Linked DNA regions of Homo sapiens: all the other regions are reported to be linked to region 3. Evidence: microRNA targets listed by miRTarBase, many of them from high-throughput screens and not tested one by one. Region 3 holds a microRNA gene; each other region holds the end of a gene's coding sequence.
The links. Region 3 holds the annotated microRNA hsa-miR-4296 (AUGUGGGCUCAGGCUCA, at 1,700-1,716, shown strand). A microRNA usually pairs through its seed, bases 2 to 8, with sites in the 3' UTR of a target mRNA and lowers its output. Matches are read on the target gene's strand: a 7mer-m8 pairs with bases 2 to 8, a 7mer-A1 pairs with bases 2 to 7 and ends in A, and an 8mer does both.

Region 1 (4,357 bases), not on the chromosome of region 3:
TGCAGATCCTGGCTCTACCACTCATTAGCTCTGTAGTCTTGGGCAAGTTATTTAACCTTACTTTGCCGCAGTTTCCTGAAAACAATCAGAATGCACCTGACACACAGAAGCCCTCAATATGTGAGTTACCACTGATTGGGTATAAAGGCCAGAATCTGCTCCAGTGGAACTGGGAGAGTTATTGGGGTACCCCCAACAAATGCACTTTTCCCCCTCCCAAACAGCTAAGAAGCTTCCCAAGAACGAGCCCCAGAATGCAACTGGTGCTCCAGGCCGAAACCGAGGTGTGGACCTCCAGGAGAACAACCCAGCCAGCCGGAGCCAGTGCTGCAGCAACTGAGCCCCCCTTGCCTGCCCGCTGCCCCCGCCTCCTCCGCCTGAATGACCCGACTGGAATCCACTCTAACCAATCGCACTTAACGACTCGGGCCACCACTGGGGGGGCAGGGGGAGGGGTCCACCATGATTTCTCCATATAATTTTGATCATAGGCCGGAGTGAGTCATTCCACCTGCACCTTTCTGTACAAATACTAATTCAATTTTAAGTCTTAAGTCACTTTTTTAATATATATGATCTTCTGCTCTTCCCACTTCCTCCCCTTTCTACTGCTCTCCCATTTTCCCTTGCTGGGAGTAGCCACATGCTCTTGCCCCCCAACCCTTGTATATGGGGACAGTGGGGTCAGTGCAGCTACCCTTTCTTTCCCTCCTGCGGAACAGCGGACCCAGCAAGAGCATCCACATCCTCACTTTGTTCGGAGTGGTCTTTGGTTTGGGCGGTGGGGCAGACCTTGGGAAGGGGCTTAGGAAGGGAGAGGCAGCTCTTCCTTCAGCTGGCTCTCATCAGGCTGCAGCCCCCTCCCCGCTCCCACCTCCCTGCTGGGAAACCACAGCATTATCACAGCATTATTGTGACAGCCACGAACCCATTGCCCACAACCCCTCCACCCTCGGTCACCCCAACCTCTGGCTCTGAGCCCTGTTCTGACCAAATCATGATGATGAGTATTTGGGGGTGGGTGGGTAAGGGGGGGAGTGGGAGGGGACGGAACCAACTTTTTCTGTATTTTGTATTGTATGTTTTCTTCAACATGTAACCAATCAGTATCTTGTCAATATAGTCAGCCGATCGATCGACCTCACAATTGTCTTCCTTGTCTTTCTCTGGCAGTTTATCAGACAGTGCCCTCTGTAGTTGAAGTTGATTTAAAATGAACCACTGAATCTTGTTAAACAAAATCTTCCCCTCTAATGTGAGGGGATGCTGGTGGTCATGGTAACCAAGAGAAAGAGGCTCTTACTGTTAGCAGCTCCGATGAGGTAGCTGACCTGGGCTGACCAAGTTTGAAGTTTCAGGGCCCGTGTTCACTTCTCCACCTCCCTTCCCCTCCCCCACCTACCAGATCATACTGGGGTGACATGCAGTGTGTATTTGATGATCATTAGTCTCTGAAACACCAGAAACAACCTCTTTGGGTTTTTTTTGGTTGGTCTTTACCAGTGAGAGGGTCTGGATCCTCTCTCTTCCTGAAGAGGAAGGAATCCCAACAGCCCCTGGAACGCTGGACTGGTCTTAAGGCCAAGACTGTAGCCACTGGCTTTCCTCACCACCTCTGTCCACGTCACCCCCCCACACCACATCCAAGTTGCCCCAGTCCAGCTCTCTACTGGTTCTGGAATCAGGTCTGGGCACTCAGCTCTCTGCTGCTACCTGTTGGAGCTGCTGCTCAGCTAGGGCCACACTCTCCTCCAATTTCTCCCAGGGCCACAGAGGCCTGATTCCCTTTTTTTTTTTTTTTCTTTTTTTGAGACGGAGTCTCTGTTACCCAGGCTGGAGTGCAGTGGTGCTATCTCAACTCACTGCAGCCTCCACCTCCTGGGTTCAAGCGATTCTTCTGCCTTAGCCTCCCAAGTAGCTGGAATTACGGGCACCCGCCACCACGCCCTGCTAATTTTTGTATTTTTAGTAGAGACAGGGTTTCACCATGTTGGCCAGGCTTGTCTCAAACTCCTGGCCTCAAGTGATCCACCCGCCTCAGCCTCCCAAAGTGCTGGGATTACAGGCGTGAGCTACCACAGTCGGCTTTTTTTTTTTTTTTTTTTTTTTTTTTTTGAAACGGAGTCTCACTCTATTGCCCAGGCTGGAGTGCAGTGGCACGATCTCGGCTCACTGCAAGCTCTGCCTCCCGGGTTCACGCCATTCTCCTGCCTCAGCCTCCCGAGTAGCTGGGACTACGGGCGCCCACCACCACGCCCGGCTAATTTTTTTGTATTTTTAGTAGAGACGGGGTTTTACCGTGTTAGCCAGGATGGTCTCGATCTCCTGACCTTGTGATTCGCCCGCCTCGGCCTCCCAAAGTGCTGGGATTACAGGCGTGAGCCACCGCGCCCAGCATTTTTTTTTTTTTTTTTTTTTTTTTTTTTTGAGACAGAGTCTCACTCTGTGGCCCAGGCTGGAGTGCAGTGGCAGGATCTTGGCTCACTGCAACCTCCCTCCACCTCCCAGGTTCAAACGATTCTCTTGCTCAGCCTCCCGAGCAGCTGGGATTACAAGCACACACCACCACGCCTAATTTTTGTGTTTTTAGTAGAGATGGGGTTTCACCATGTTGGCCAGGCTGGTCTCGAACTCCTGGCCTCAAGTGATCTGCCCGCAGAGGCCTGATTCTTGGTGGACCACCACCTTGAGGGTGCCTTTCCTGCCTCCTGTGCCTCCAGTCCCTCTACCTCTGACTTCCATCCCCAGAAAAGACAACGGACACCAAGGCTGCTGCACATCGCGTCGTTTGTTTACCGGGTCAGGTTGGAAGCCTTAGAGCCGAGGCTCCCGAGTCTCGGGGACGGTCCTGTTTGGGCTTCAGGGAGGGCCAGCGCCACACACTGGCCTCTGACCCACAGCTGCCCGGAGGGGGTCAGGCAGCAGGTCATGGCGGTAGGACTCAGGTTGGACGGGAGCATTTTCCGGTGCACCTTCTGTGACATGCGGTAACTGACCCTTTCCGGGTCCCTGACGTCCAGTTGCTGCTGTCCGGTCACCATCAGCCATTGGCCATCCACCTGCACCACCAGTTCCTCCGGGGCGAAGCCGTGGGCATCCAGCTTCATTTGGAAACCGTCTCTGGCATGGTCATTGTCCTCCTGAGCCGCTGGACTGTCCCTGAGCAGCCGCACCGGCATTGTGGCCACCCGGTTCCGTTCAGCAAGGCCCACGCTGGGACACCGGGATGCCACCCGGCTCTCGTTGGAGAAGGTGTTACCGACTCTCTGCATCCGAGTCAGCAACTAACTGCTGTCAAAGGGCGCGAGGCTCCCAGCGCAGAGCTAGGCGCACGGACGCCCGGAGAGGAGGGACCTCGCGCGGCCTACCCGAGCTCAGCTCCGCTCGCTCGGTTCCCTTCGCTTCTGCAAACGCAGGCGGAGTTCGGGATCAGCCACGCCCATCTTACCTCCAAGAGCCAGACTGTCAGCGCCCTGGCGCGCCCGCAGCTGCTCTCCTCCCAGACTCCGACCCTTTCTCCGCCCTTCCCCACCTTCGTTAATGGACCCGGGGAGGCCGCAGCTGTGAAGGAACTGGATCCACGACCAGGCCAGACCCGAGGGAGCCGCACCCTGGCGCAGCCAACAGCAGATTGATCCCCCAGCTGGAAGGGGGCTGTCTTGCCTTCTAAGGACCAGGCCTGGGGCAAGGATTGTTCCTAGACAGAGCCAGGGGAGGGCGGCCTTCCTGGGTCATCCACCCTACCTCTCCCTGACCACCCACAACCCCACGCGGACACGCGACACGAGGAGGTGGACTGGTCTCTCCGGCTGCATTAATTCTTCCCGGGGCGTCCTGTGCTGCAGGCTGTGGTCTGGGCTCTGGGGCCACAAAGATGAAGACGCAGTTGGGGCTTCAGGAGAGTGGCTCCCAGTGCACAGAGAAAGACCTAGCCCTCCTCCGCCTCACCCTCCACGTCAGTAGCCTTCTTGGTGACCATCATAACCACAGCTATGCCTCTGGTGCTGTTATTTGATAATTTTTTTTTTTTAAGAGACAGGGTATCATTATGTTGCCCAGGTTAATCTCGAACTCCTGGGCTCAAGCGATCCTCCCATCTCGGCCTCCCAAAGTGCTGAGATTACAGGCGTGAGCCACCTCGCCCAGCCTATAAACTTTATTTTTTATTTTTTTGTAGAGATTGGTGGGGGGGGTCTCCCAATGTTGCCCAGCCTGGTCTCGAACTCCTGCAGGGCTCAAGCTCTCCTCCCGCGTGAGCCAGCCACCCGGCCTGATAAACTCCTTTTTGTTGAGTGATACTATTAAATACATACATACTGAAAAGCGCAGAAAAAGGTGCAGGTGAATGTCAGGAGGA
Region 2 (4,682 bases), not on the chromosome of region 3:
CTTCTGGATTCAGGGAAACCAAGACCAGTTCCTCCTTACAAGAACGCTGGGAACCCCTAATCTCAAGGTTGGTTGGTTTTTTGAAAAAAATTAAAAACGTAGAACAATGCAATTAATAATATACCATATACCCAGGTTCTAGGCACCCAGAATTAATGACTGTTAACATTTTCTCCCAAGGTATTTTGAGAACCCTTTTTTCTTTAGAATGACTCATGCGTCATAAGACACAGGCTTAATCTACCATCGTTTAATCGCCAGATTACCAAATTAGAATATTGAACTAGGACAGGAAAGATAAAATATTCTTATTTTATTTTTTAAAATATGGTACTTAAGTGGACCACGTGATGAGTTTTGACAAATGCCTATCATTACTTTTCTTTTTTTTTCTCACTTTTTTTAAAAGCAACAAGTCAAGGAATATACTCATCATGTTTTAAATTGCATTTGCAATTGGAACTGCATAAAAAGGCATTTTAATTTACATAATCTTTTTCTGCTGTTTTCACTTCCTGTTAAAACGGAATAACCTGGGGATTTTTATTTTCTGGTAGAAAATGCACAGTTTCAAGAAAGTCAAGAGTAAAGGTTAAGTTTACAGATTTCCAGTGACAGAGATGAAAGGGAACTACGTAACTCTGGAAAATAAAAGTTCAGAGTTGCGTTGCTTACAACTTTTTCATTTGTTAAGTTCTAGGAGCAAGTTTGAATGGGGAATCAAGAAGCCTGAATTATAGAACCAGTGCTGCCAGTAATGCACTGTGTGGCTGCTGGCCCATCACTTTACCTTTTTGGGCTAAAACTCTTTTTGTGCTTTTGGAATAACTTGTGTCCACTTTCTCCTTCTTTATGTCTTTTGTTTATAGGTTTGCGTTTTATGCACTGTTAACCAATCAGTCCTGATTCCTCTACCACACGTAGTAAGAGGGTAAGCCGTGGACATGAAGTGATGCTGCCAAGCTTGGCTAGTGTATGCACACTGCACCTTGCATGGGTGCCGTGAGGGCCCTGGAGGCCATATCTGGACTGGCTCTGGTCCTGAGGGTCAGAGTTCATCTGCTCCTGGATCCTAGTTTCACCTTCATAGGTTCCTCTGTATATGGACTTGAAATGTGACTTTCTTAGTGATAAGAGTTGTGGTTTTTATTCATTCACCACAGATGTTGTAAACCCCTACTTTTGTGTAGGGCACCGTTTTTCACTTTTACAGAAGAGGTTACTTTAGCAATTCTTTAAATGTCAGAGCCCTGTGCTGGCTAAAAACTCAACGCTGTATCTCACTTAAAAAACAAAATCAACTCCAAAGCCATCACCTCCATTTGGTAGTATGCTAATGAAATTGGGACACTGAGGGCTGGGTGTGGTGGCTCATGCCTTAATCCCAGCACTTTGGGAGGCCGAGGCAAGTGGATCACTTGAGGTCAGGAGTTCGAGACCAGTCTGGCCTCATCTCTACTAAAAATACAAAGATTAGCTGGGTGTGGTGGCATAGGCCTCTAGTCCCACTTACTTGGGAGGCTGAGGCAGGAGAATTGTTTGAACCTAGAGGCAGAGATTGCAGTGAGTGCCATTGCACTCCAGCCTCTGTCTCAAAAAAAAAAAAAAAAAAAAAGAAAGAAATTGGGACACTGAGGTAAGCAGCCTTCAATCCTTGCTGAGCATTTGGCCCTAATCCTCTAAATTCTTTTGAGAGTTTAGGGTTGGGACTGAGGGAGTGGGTCAGCTTGGATCAACGCCAGCACTCTGGATGTCAGCAGTGGCCAAGCGTCTTCCTTCTGACTCTGTAAAGCTGGAGCAATCCTCTTATTGCACAGGTACTGGCACTGTCAGATAGAAACGACAGCCCTGGGAGGAGACCTGCAGCACTGACAGTCAGTGGTTCAGACACATGAGCCCGGACCCCAGTGCTGTCATGGACCCGTGCCATGACCTTGGCCCAATGACTGTTTCCACAGTGGAAACAAACAGTGAAAGTTCCAACCCCAGATGTAGTGACGAAGGTTCATTGCACTTGCACACAGTAGATGCTCAATAAATACCCATTACTCAATTAGGGAAATGAAGCACAATATCCATTTTTGGAAAATATTTATTAAAAAACTAGTGAATGTGGCAGAAAAACAAAACCAACACACAGCTTTAAATAGCAAGCATATGACACACCGGTTATAAAGCTTTTCCAACTCTACTGATTTAGTCTTTCACACCAGCTACTGTTGAGGAGGGCTTCCGAGGGAAGCCACGTGTAAACGGGTCATCTGTACTAGTGGTGAGCAAAACTAATTACATGAGAACTATCAATGGCCATATGACTTGCTTTCCTAGGCAATCCACCCAAAACATAGGTGAGTGGCCAAATCTCAGGCGTGCGTTCATGTGGATCTATAGTTCTAGTTTTAATTTGAGGGTTGGGGGAAGTTAGGGGATGAAACAGTAGAAAGACAAACAGTATCGGCAGAGGGCAACCTTAAAGCACCTTTAAAATCTGGACCCTTTCCCACAATTTAACCCAGTAATTCTCAAACATTACTGTTGAAAAGAATCACCTGATGAGACTGTTAAATTGGCAGGCTCCCTAAATCTGCAATTTTAAGATAAGCACTCCGGGTGATTCAGTGTCTATTAGCCAGCCATCCAATTTCAGAAACACTGTTTAAAATGCATTAAAACAATTCCTACCTCCCACAAACAAAAGTAAAGGAATCTGCTGACAGTCACTGTGCTTTTGTCAATGTCAAGGGACCAATATGGGAAGGCAGGCAGGAAGGGGCCTCCCATTCCTAACACACTGATCTATAGAAGCCCTGTGCAACAGCCTGTCAAGTGTTGTTTAGGGAGTAAATACAATTCAATAAGAGTTGTTTTAGATCACAGAACAGCATCCAAATCACCAACAGGCCAACCCCATTCATCCCAGGTTAATGAACTTTGTTGGGTCGAAGCCAGATGGGACACTGCTGTTCAAACAAAACACGGGTAATTGTGGGTCCTGACTTGTGAAGACATATGGAATAAAACATCTATAAAAACCTTTATTAAACATAGAGCACTATGCCCAAATAATTTTGAAGGTTTACGAAAGTCACATCATGGACAACATGTAGAAATAGTAACATTGATTCCAAGGTTCCCATTATCTGCAAAAAGATGTGCTATGGCTGTGTCGAAAACAAGGCAGTCGCTGTTCATGATGGCCGCAGCCACACCGTCATGAATCGAACGGGGCGTGGCCTCCCAGGTCAATCTCCGCCGGTTCCCATTCAACTCCAGTCTGTAGGCAAAGTTCTCGGCTTGCTTGCGGGTGCCAATGAGCAGGACGATGGCAAAAAACTGCTGGTGGCCTTCGTACTTCTCTTGTTTCTCCAGCACCAGCATGAAGTGATGGCCAAAACATGACTGCATCATCACCCAGTCGACAGCCCCTGGCAAGTTAATGTCTGTAGCTAGAAAGACGATGTCTTCTCCCTGAAGGGTGGTAATGCTCTTGTGGGCGTGCATGAGATGGGACATCACAGCTTCCAGGGACCCCTGCCACTTGCAGGAAGCACCAGGACATGGGCAGGAGTAGGGACGGTATTCACATATGTCTTCATGTTCTGGTTTCTCCGTATGGTGCAGGGTCAGGGAACAGCCCGTGGTGGCATACTGCAAAGAAAGAAATGCATTGAGCCATTGGGCCTTCTCAAAACTTCTATTGCTTCAACCCTCTATGAGTACTTAACTACTCCATTTTCCTGGGCTTAAACTGTGTTCTTAACTACTTTTGCTCAAAGCAAGTGAAATATTCAAGACTAAAAGTCTCCGTCTCTATTCATCATCAATGCTGTCATGCATAAAATGAAGGGTATTTCCTGAACCAGAAATACGCTGTTTTCCATGCCCCCTGTTCCGCTGTCAAAGGGATCAGAACTAAAGTTCTCTTACTGTGCACATCTCAAAATTGTTGAGCAAGCCCTATAAAAGCTGGTCTTCCCCATATTTTCTGTGAAGCTGTTTTTTAAAGAATTCAATTGCTTGGGTGGTGGGGATGGGGTTGGGCAAGGAATATTATATTATCCCAAGATTAGTTTTCACATATAGACAATATTAACAACAGTATAATTCTGTCGTCCCCCTCCACTGCTTTCTGGCTCAAACTGGTGACTGGCAGGCAGGCCGTGGGGAAGGCTGCCCTTTGGTTCCTTGCTCTTTGCTGCTGGCATCACCAGGCTAGGGCAGCGGAGGCCTGGAGACCCCTTCATACAGCTAGAAATATTACCCCACTGCATCCTTTTGACCTTCCCTCTGGGGGGCTTTGCCCATATTTTTTGGGTGGAAGGAAATCACATCCAAGAGCTACTTAACTAACTCAGAAGACTACTGGTCAGTCTGGTTCTGGCCAGTAGAGGTTAACATGAGAAGGGCCTAACCCTCCTCTCAAAGCTTGCTGACCCCCAACACTTCCTCAGATTCAAGAGCACATCATTTCATGGTCAGGTATGTCAGGTCCTCACAACAGGCCCGGGAGGAAGCAGAACTAGACAAGTTTGCTGACATGATCAGTCTGCCCCTCAGACACTGCCTTAATAGGGTAGGAGAACAAAATCATTTTCTCCCTTGCACTTGGGATGACATTCCTAATGGATAAATCATACCTGCCGTGGCAAAAGACCACACCAAGAGGAACTGAACTTCTACTC
Region 3 (4,682 bases):
GCTATACATTATAATTATATGTTGGGATCAGGCAATTATGCACATTTCCAGCAATTATGTGATTAGCTGTAATTACATTAGCTATGTAAATATACAATAGTCAACTAGACATGCCTTAAAACCCCAAAGCACAAATGAACATACCCAAACAATCTTATGCAAAGGTAAAGGTTCAGGAAACAGCCAAGGCAAAGCTTCACAGACAAAAGTGCGGTTCTTTGCAAGGGGTAAAGTTTCATGTTTTGCCTTATCTGTCCCCGGCTTTAAGAGAAACTCAGAGTGGGGGACCCCTCCCCAGGGAACCCCTCACCCCACCTGTTCCTCCACCGACTCTGGGGATGGGGTTCATAGACTGCCCTCCCGTTCTGCAGCTGTGAATCAGGTTCGGTGTTTTATTTCTCTGTTGTTACTCATTTCTCAAGCACAAACATAAGCGTCTCTTTGCACCGGTCAGTTTGGTGATGGGCGGATGTCTTCATACTCACCACTTTTTTCTAATAGCAACATGTTAAGGCCACTTTGCTTTTATTTGGGGGGCCAGGGATGTGTAGTGCAACTGGAGTCTGTGGCTGGGGTTTGGGGGTTCATCACCGTCTTCTAGTTTGGTTCTGCAGCTGCGGTTTTCAGCTCCTGCCCCTACCACAGTGAATCGCGCTGTTTCCCACCGCCTGGTTGGTGGTGCCCTGTCTCCATCGATGATTGAGTTGAAACCTCCCACAGTGTGGCCCGGAGCCCCTGGGCCCAGCTGCCCAGGGCTTTACTCTCAGTGCCTGTCCTCTTGGTCCCGGCACCTTTGGGAAAAGAGCATCTCTAGTTTCAGGCCAAGTCAGTGCCTTGAGGGGAGCAGTGCTTGGGGTGGGCAGGGGGAAGGAGTGCCGCGGGGGGAACAGTGCATCCGTAGTCTCCGTGTTTGGAGGAGGCCCCAGGGTAGCCAGACAGCAGCAGACAGCAGCCCGCACGAATGCGGAGAACCTTCTGCGCGCTTCACACAGCTCAACCTAATTGACAGGTATTTGGGGTGACTGTGAACCAGAACCCCAAGATACATTTTGCTGCCGGCTTCTTGCCCTCTCTCCTTTTCCAGAACGTACAGTGTTAAAGCTGTGAAATGAGACTCCTCTCTGATTGGTTTCTACCACTTGGCTCGCTTGCTACTAAAGCTCAGGCACCTTGGCGTGCGCGCTCGAGGGCGTTCCTCTGTCTCTGTCTCATCTCCATCTACAGAGTGACCTCACGTGCCTTTCTCAGCCCTTCCACATCCAGCAGGAGCCTGGCTGAGCACCCCAGCTGGGCTGTGAAGATGCCGAGAGGGGAGAGCATTCTGGGTGTCCAGCGCTGGGGCACAGTGGGATCCCACACTCCCTGTCCCTCCAGCCTGTTTCTCATCACCTGAGGGTTTTGTTTTCCGTGTTCCGGTTGAAGAGATGTCTGTGCCAGGAGGGTTCCTCCCTTCCCATTTGCAACCTGGGATGGGTGACGCAGATTTATCCGAGACTTGGGAGTGAGGCTGAGAGTCAGTTCTTTCGTATCCTAAGAAAGGCTGACCGTCCCATCAAGGCCCGTGTGCTGAAACTGTCCGTGTGCAGGCTCAGGTGGAGCAGGTCTCTGTCAGGCAGCCATTTGTATTTGGGCGGTGGGTGCTTTGCCTAGCTTAGTGCCTACCATGCCCAGGCTTGCAAATGGGGCTGTTTGGGCTTTGATGTGGGCTCAGGCTCAGAGGGCTGAAGTGGTTGTGGGGAGGGGCTTCTGGGGACTGTGTCCATGTCTCTGTCGTTTTTCCCCATCACACCGTACACTCCCTTGAGGCCAGCCGTCCATCACCATTGAGTCATAGTCGACAGTTTGATTTACAGCCCGGGTGTCAAACAAAATGAAAAGCACGTGATGAATGGAGGGAGCACGTGCTGTGGAGGGAGGGGTGCGCTCCGCTCCGCAGGTCAGGGGCTAAGCGGCCATGCCTTGGCCTGTCTCTACAGGCACATGCATGCCCTGGACTATTTTTGGGGTGCCTTTCTCATCTTGAGGAGTGGCAGGTTTTTTGGACTAAGGACAAAGTGACAGAATTGGACTGAGAAAGGTTCATGGGGGAGGGCTCGCTGAGCCAGCCCTGATTAGGAGCATTGCTCACAAAACCAGAGGAAGGACGGCATCCTGGGACCTTCTGATCGCAGGACAGCCGAGGAGACCTCAAACAGTGGAGTGTGATGGGGCGGGTCACCATGGAGGTGAGGTGGAGACTTTGGGAATCTGCAGGAAAAGCTGCTAAAGAGCAGAAGGGGTGGTGTTCATTGAGCACCTACTGTGCGGAGCGTCTTGTGCCGGGTGCTGTCCAGAGCTGAGCACAGCCTCTTGAGGTTGAGTGTGTTCCATTGCTAGAAATGGGAATCCTGACATGGTCCAAGGTGAGGCCTGTCCTGCATCCCAGCTGGGGTCCCGTTGCACACTTTGGCTCCACCAACACTTTCAAAATGGGCAGTGCAAGAGAATGGGCTTGTTTTTTTTTTTCTTTTGAAACCCCATAATGAGTGGTCTAATTTTCATAATGCAGTTCCCAGGAAGCTTTACAATATAGTTAAGAAATTGAGTCAGAAGCAATGTGCAGGCCTTTGTTTTCACTTACCATGGCTAAATACTGAGAGACATGAGGACTGGGGCTTCTTAGGATGCAGCTAATCTGAAAAAGGCTGGGTTGGTTCAGACACTCGACGTCACTCTCCTGACTTCCTTTGGCGCGTTGCGTGGGTGCCCAAGCCTCCGCGCTCCAGGCCCAGAAATTGGTGAGAGCACTCAGTGTGCAAGCAAGGGTGCACGGTGCACTCAGCCCCTTTGATACCTGAAACGATGTCTGGGCAGTTTTGCTAATTGTTGCTGTGTGCTTGCGTGATTTAGACGAAGGCTGCTTTAAAACCCAGCCAGACTTTGTGTTTGCTATGTAACCAGTGCATTTGGTGTGGCCTCCCACCCTTTGCGTTAGATTAGCCAACTTGGCTACTTTGGGTTGAGGACGTTCGGGGGCAGGGGGTAGGGGGTTGATGAGAGGAAAGACTTTTTTTTTTTTTTTTTTTTTTTTTGAAATGGAGTCTTGCTCTGTTGCCCAGGCTGGAATGCAATGGTTCTGTCTCGGCTCACTGCAACCTGCACCTCCCGGGTTCACGCCATTCTCCTGCCTCAGCCTCCCGAGTAGCTGGGATTACAGGCACCCGCCACCACGCCCGGCTAATTTTTGTATTTTTAGTAGAGACAGGGTTTCGCCATGTTGGCCAGGATGGTCTCCATCTCCTGACATCAGGTGATCCGCCCCACTCAGTCTCCCAAAGTGCTGGGATTACAGGCATGAGCCACGGCACCCGGCCCAAGAAAACTTTTTTAATGGCACAAATTCCACAACACTTAACTTGACAGAAGCAGACAAAAATCCAGCACAGGCTGTCCACATTTAAAAGCAGGAAATGGGTATGCCATAGGCCGATTTTTCTGCCCTGTGTCTGCCAGAAAACCGTGTTACCCGCTAACTTCTGCAGCCTCCCTAGGGAAGCGCTCGCTGTGGGAGACGTAGAGGGCACTGTGGTGGCTCCGTCCTGGGATGCAGCAGGCGCTGAAGAGCCTCCTGAGATGTTATTTCCGCTATCACCTTCAGAGCTGCCCTGGCCCTTTGTGTTGGTGGAGGCAGGATCAGGGAATGGAAGCCCAGGCAGGTGCAGGACCCCCCTGGGGAAGCTGTTCCTTAAGTTCCTTCAGTTGGGAACTTAAGTTGCCTCCTGAGAATGAGCTATTCCCTGAGAAGGCCTTGAGACAAACCTGGCAGCCCACCAAGTGGGCGGGTGACAACACAGTTAAGAGGGACACACCATTGAGCCAAATGGCCCTCATGTTACTGCAACCTTCAGACTCACTGATCCCACCTGTTCTTCTTTTTCTATAAAAGTGAGAATTAGACCCCAGAGTCATGTTTTCTCTCTCATTTCAAGCAGTTTCCTGCATGATTATTCCAATGGGAACATGAAATGCTTGTTGGCAGTTTGTCCAAAGACTGCTCCGTCGGAGGGTACCCACTGATCATCCCCATCCTGGCCTCTCTTCCCAGCTCTTCTGGAACTGTCTGGATCCATCTCTGGAATTGTCTGGATCTCTGTAGGTCTCTGTTGTTAATTGACACCTTGTGTCGCACAGGGACTTCAGAATTGGCTTTGGGTGGACATCGCCTCTCTCCCCGACACAGCTATGTTACACAATCATCTTATTTTTACTTGACATAATTTCTATAGTGAGGGTTTTGGCAGAATTAAAAAATTAAGCCCGTGAGATGTATTACTCTAATGGGTCCCATCTCACTTTTAGTCAACATGAGAATTTTTAAGAAAAGCAGTCCTTTCTAAAAGACTGGAGTGTGGTGTGTGTGTGTGTGTGTGTGTGGTGTTTGTGTAACCAGAGTGTTTGGAAAAGTGAGTCCAGTTACAGGTGTTTTTACCTAGCGCAGGAAAACATCTGTCATAATATTTGTCAAATCTCAGAGCCAAGGCTGTGCGAGTTTGGGTGGTTTCCAAGCAGAACAGGTTGAAAGTTGATAGAAATGGAAGCTGGGCCTCCTGGTTCAATGGGAGGCTGATGCTGCCCCAAAGCGCATCTGCCCACATCTGCCCTGCTCCTGCGATCACCCCTTGGACACCAGCTCAGTAACCTCT
Region 4 (4,682 bases), not on the chromosome of region 3:
GTTCAGACACGTGGCTGGAGAGAGGGCCGGAACCTGGGGGTCCTAACGTCGGAGCCCCTGTGAATAGGCTTGGCTTGTATGGAGGGGGTCAGGAAAGGCTTGAGTATGTAGCATAGGCCAACACGCAGACCCTGGAAAGGGCTAGAAGGAGGGGAGGGAGAGGCCTGGAGGCCTGCGGGGTGGGGCACCCAGTGACCTGGGAGGGCACAAAGAGGAAGGTTAGAGCGAGGTCCAGGTTGTGCAGAGGAGGTCAAGAGATCCTGTGAGTACAGTGTATGGTGGAGCACCGAGGCTAGGAGAGGTTTTCCAAGGAGGAAGACCCTGGGGACCTTTTAGGGGGCCACAGACTCCAGCTGTGAGCGGGACTGGAAAAGAGGGACTGAGGGGCAGCAGGATGCAGAGGTCCTGGGCCGGGTATAGGGAGGGAAAAGGATGGAGCCTGTGGTGCTGAGCTGCCCTCTTCTATATAACCTTCTTATCCCATCTCCCATCCACCAGGCCTCAGCCAGCCCTCCGGATGCTGGTGCTGCCATCCCCCTGCCCTCAGCCTCTGGCATTTTCCTCCGTTGAGACCATGGAGGGCCCTCCCCGTCGGACTTGCCGCTCCCCAGAACCTGGACCTTCCTCCTCCATCGGATCTCCCCAGGCTTCATCTCCTCCAAGGCCCAACCACTACCTGCTTATTGACACTCAGGGTGTCCCCTACACAGTGCTGGTGGACGAGGAGTCACAGAGGGAGCCAGGGGCCAGTGGGGCTCCAGGCCAGAAAAAGTGCTACAGCTGCCCCGTGTGCTCAAGGGTCTTCGAGTACATGTCCTACCTTCAGCGACACAGCATCACCCACTCGGAGGTAAAGCCCTTCGAGTGTGACATCTGTGGGAAGGCATTCAAGCGCGCCAGCCACTTGGCACGGCACCATTCCATTCACCTGGCGGGTGGTGGGCGGCCCCACGGCTGCCCGCTCTGCCCTCGCCGCTTCCGGGATGCGGGTGAGCTGGCCCAGCACAGCCGGGTGCACTCTGGGGAACGCCCGTTTCAGTGTCCACACTGCCCTCGCCGCTTTATGGAGCAGAACACACTGCAGAAACACACGCGGTGGAAGCATCCATGAGCCGGGCTGCCGGGTGCCCCAGGTACCACAGGACTTTGCAGGGAGCCTGGACTCCTGTCCAGACACCTGGTGAGAGCCTGAGGCTGGTGTTCAGGGCCCTGGACACAGACACAGAGCAGCCGCATCTCAAAGGCAGAGCCCTGCCTGAAGGAGGAATCCGTGAGTAATCTTCAGGTCCTCCGTGTTCTGGAGCTGAGATGGGAATGAGCCCCTACACAGAATGGAGTCCTCTAGCCTAAAGATATCAGCTGTTCCATGGCAGAGCCTTGACTGGATGGAGGTGGGGAGTGTGGTGTGTAAAGTCTCTGGCCTCATAAAAGGTGGCTGTGGGTCGTCAGGAATCTGCGCCATCTTCCTGGGGCTTCTGCGCTGTTGTTGGGGAAGGGACCCCAGTCCTGCCTTCCACCCCCCAACCAGGCCTGAGACTGATCAAACAATAAACACGTTTCCCACTCTGAGCACTCGAGGTTTGTTTTTAGAGACAGCATCTCAGACCCTCTTTGGTGGCCGTCTAGCAGGGAGACCTCAGCTTGCCTGGCTGGGGAATGGGAAGGTTGGCCTGCCTTGGGGTTATCCCCTCCTCAGCTCCTGAAGACCTGGGTCATCTGGGAAGAATGTTTTTAACTGAAACAATTTTAAAACCACAATCTCCTGTTACAAACACATTTTATATGGCAATAGAGTATACAGATAAGCAAAATACACGTGAACCAAGTTTCCTTTTTTTTTTTTTGAGACGGAGTTTCACTCTTTTTGCCCAGGCTGGAGTCCAATGGCACAATCTCGGATCACCGCAATGCCTCCTGGGTTCAAGCGATTCTCCTGCCTCAGCCTCCCTAGTAGCTGGGATTACAAGCGTGTGCCACCATGCCCAGCTAATTTTGTATTTTTAGTAGAGACGGGGTTTCTCCATGTTGGTCAGGCTGTTCTTGAACTCCCAACCTCAGGTGATTCACCTGCCTCGGCCTCCCAAAGTGCTGGGATTCCAGGTGTGAGCCACAGCGCCTGGCCTCTTTTTTTTTAGACGGAGTTTCGCTCTTGTCACCCAGGCTGGAGTGTAATGGCGTGATCTCAGCTCACTGCAACCTTCACCTCCTGGGTTCAAGCGATTCTCCTGCTTCAGCCTCCCAAGTAGTTGGGGTTACAAGCGTGTGCCACCATGCCCAGCTAATTTTGTACCTTTAGTAGAGATGGGTTTCACCGTGTTTGTCAGGCTGGTCTCGAACTCCTGACCTGAGGTGATCCACACACCTCGGCCTCCCTCAGGGCACTAGGCCTCGAAACAAAAGTTTTTTTTTTTTTTTTCTTTTGAGACGGAGTCTTGCTCTGTCGCCCAGGCTGGAGTGCAGTGGCGCAATCTCGGCTCACTGCAAGCTCCGCCTCCCGAGTTCATGCCATTCTCCTGCCTCAGCCTCCTGAGTAGGTGGGACTACAGGCGCCCGCCACCATGCCTGTCTAATTTTTTGTATTTTTAGTAGAGACAGGGTTTCACTGTGTTAGCCAGGATGGTCTCGATCTCCTGACCTCGTGATCCGCCCCCCTCTGCCTCCCAAAGTGTTGGGATTACAGGCGTGAGCCACTGCGCCCGGCCCACAAAAATTTCTTTACCATAGTTAGCTTTAGTTTGTGCATTTTTTTTTCCATCAACTATTATTATTACTATTTGAGACGGAGTCTCGCTGTGTCGCCCAGGCTGGAGCGTGGTGCGATCTCGGCTCACTGCAACCTCCACCTCCCCGGTTTAAGCGATTCTCCTGCCTCAGCCTCCTGAGTAGCTGGGATTACAGGTGTGCACCACCACGCCCGGCTAAATATTTTTTTAAACTGCTGATTTCATCCTATTCTATTGAATTCTCCACCCATGAACCTGTAGTTTGGAAAAGACCAATCTAGGGCAGATGGCTCCCCCTGGAATTTTTGGACCAGGCTGCAGTTAATCTGTAAAGTGGGGAGGGGAGGATCATGGTCACAGCTTTGCAGGCGGTGCAGACATTTAGATTCTCCCTCCATCGGGTTAAGACCTTGCTCTTATAAGGGCTGGCCACAGTCCAGAGCTTGGATGCTTCTGGTGAACAGGAGAGGCAGGTGGAGCTGAGCCTGAAGCTTAATAAACATCTGCTTATTCATTCATTTTTCTTGCCTATTTTGTGCCAGGCACTGTGCTAGGCCTCATTTGCTCTTCCGACCTGTTTTTTTGGGAGGAAGAACAAATCTTCCGTTCATACTCCCCAGAGTGGGAAAGAGCCTCCCAGAGGCTGCCATCATACCCCACCATCTGACCTCAAATAATACCAGCAGCGCTCCTCTCTTCAGCCCTGACGATGGCCAGGTGCTGGGCTGAGCTTCTGTGTGTCGCATCACTGCATCCTCACAATAAATTTAGAAGGGCTTGTAATTTCCCCATTTTGCAGGTGAGTTAACAGGCTGGGGAGGAGCAGGAACAGTCAGGACTGGAATCTAGCTTTGCTCCAAAGCCAGCTCTTAATTACCAACATGGGGATGGGGGTGGCGTGTTCCTGGCCCTCATTTTCCGGGAGAGGGGTAACTCCCCCGATTTTGGCCCCCACATCCCTGAGAACCTTGGGGTCTGGCTGTAGGAGGTAGGGGAGCTCTGAGGGGTCCGCGCTGGCTAGTTCCTGAGAGAGCGTTAAAAGTAGATTCTCCTTTCGCTCCAACTTTCTCGGTGTCTCAAACACTCTCCTGCCTTCTGGGCCCATTGGGCACACCGCCACCCAATCCGGGGACCCCCGGAGACTCGCCAGCTCTCCAGGATGGGAATTTCGTGATGTTCCCTGCCTGAGCTTCGGGGAGGGCGGGGGAGTGCTGTAAGGGGCTATCGCGCAAGTGCAGACCCTCTGCTTCTGCCGCAAACGGCGGGCCTCACCTGGACCCGGGGACTCTTCAACGAGGGGCGCTAGCCTGGCCCGACTGGGCGAGTCCCCGCGTCCCTGCCCGTTCCGTCGCTCAGTTCCACGACACGCTCCCCTGCCGCCCCGCCTGTTCGCGGGTGGGTGGGCGCTTCCCTCGGCTCCCCGTGACACTTTGCAGACGCTCCCCGGCGCCGGGCATGGGCGCCGCCGCCGTCGGTCCCCGAGCCGGATTCCGCGAGCGGGTGGGTGAGCGCGGGGGGCCTCGGCCCCTCGGACCCCGGGCACCCGCGGGCGGGGGATGGTGGCCGCGTTTGCACCCCCGCCCTAGTGCATGTTCCCGCTGGAATCGTTCCACGACCGCTCCCCCTCCCACCCGCGGGACAAAGGGCGGGGGCGGGGGGGGCGCACCCCCACGCGTGACCTTTCCCCGTACTGCGCACGCGCCCAGCCCCCACCACCGGGGGACGGTCCGCCCGCCCACGCGAGTGCGGGGGAGGGGTGTGGGGGCCCCGAAGGTAGAGGAGGCAGCGCGCACGGGCTGGACCTCCTCCTACCCTGGGAAGTTGGGGCAGTTTCCCCCTGCACCTGCCTCTTCCTTAGGCCTGGCAGTGGCCCGCGATGAGAGAGGGTCCTTCCCCTTCAGGCTAGGTGTCCCTGGTCAGGCGACCCCTTGGGGCACCCAGCAATTTAGGGCTTCAGCT

Region 1: miRTarBase lists RAB5C as a target of hsa-miR-4296. Seed matches in the 3' UTR shown: 8mer at 934-941.
Region 2: the mRNA of SIAH2 is a reported target of hsa-miR-4296. Seed matches in the 3' UTR shown: 7mer-A1 at 2,984-2,990.
Region 4: the mRNA of ZNF581 is a reported target of hsa-miR-4296. The part of its 3' UTR that is shown has no 7-base or 8-base seed match.

What each region holds. Positions count from the first base shown.
Region 1 is chr17:42,121,766-42,126,122 of GRCh38, reverse strand. It overlaps RAB5C (RAB5C, member RAS oncogene family), which reads left to right. Exons shown (of 6, transcript NM_004583.4): 6 at 225-1,144. The coding sequence ends at 340. It overlaps HSPB9 (heat shock protein family B (small) member 9), which reads right to left and starts at 3,319. Exons shown (of 1, transcript NM_033194.3): 1 at 2,771-3,319. The coding sequence starts at 3,272. The coding sequence ends at 2,793. RefSeq lists an enhancer at 2,467-3,004.
Region 2 is chr3:150,739,051-150,743,732 of GRCh38, forward strand. It overlaps SIAH2 (siah E3 ubiquitin protein ligase 2), which reads right to left. Exons shown (of 2, transcript NM_005067.7): 2 at 2,075-3,648. The coding sequence ends at 3,091. Among named protein-coding and RNA genes, the nearest start is that of SIAH2-AS1, 21 kb to the right of the region's middle. RefSeq lists a silencer at 1,817-1,896.
Region 3 is chr10:125,029,878-125,034,559 of GRCh38, reverse strand. MIR4296 (microRNA 4296) reads left to right here and starts at 1,690; the gene lies at 1,690-1,777. The region is part of intron 3 of CTBP2 (C-terminal binding protein 2); the gene reads left to right.
Region 4 is chr19:55,644,055-55,648,736 of GRCh38, forward strand. It overlaps ZNF581 (zinc finger protein 581), which reads left to right. Exons shown (of 2, transcript NM_016535.4): 2 at 499-1,569. The coding sequence starts at 518. The coding sequence ends at 1,111. CCDC106 (coiled-coil domain containing 106) reads left to right here and starts at 4,158. Exons shown (of 5, transcript NM_001370470.1): 1 at 4,158-4,682. RefSeq lists enhancers at 529-1,494, 1,178-1,227, 1,238-1,287 and silencers at 888-997, 4,234-4,353, 4,384-4,513.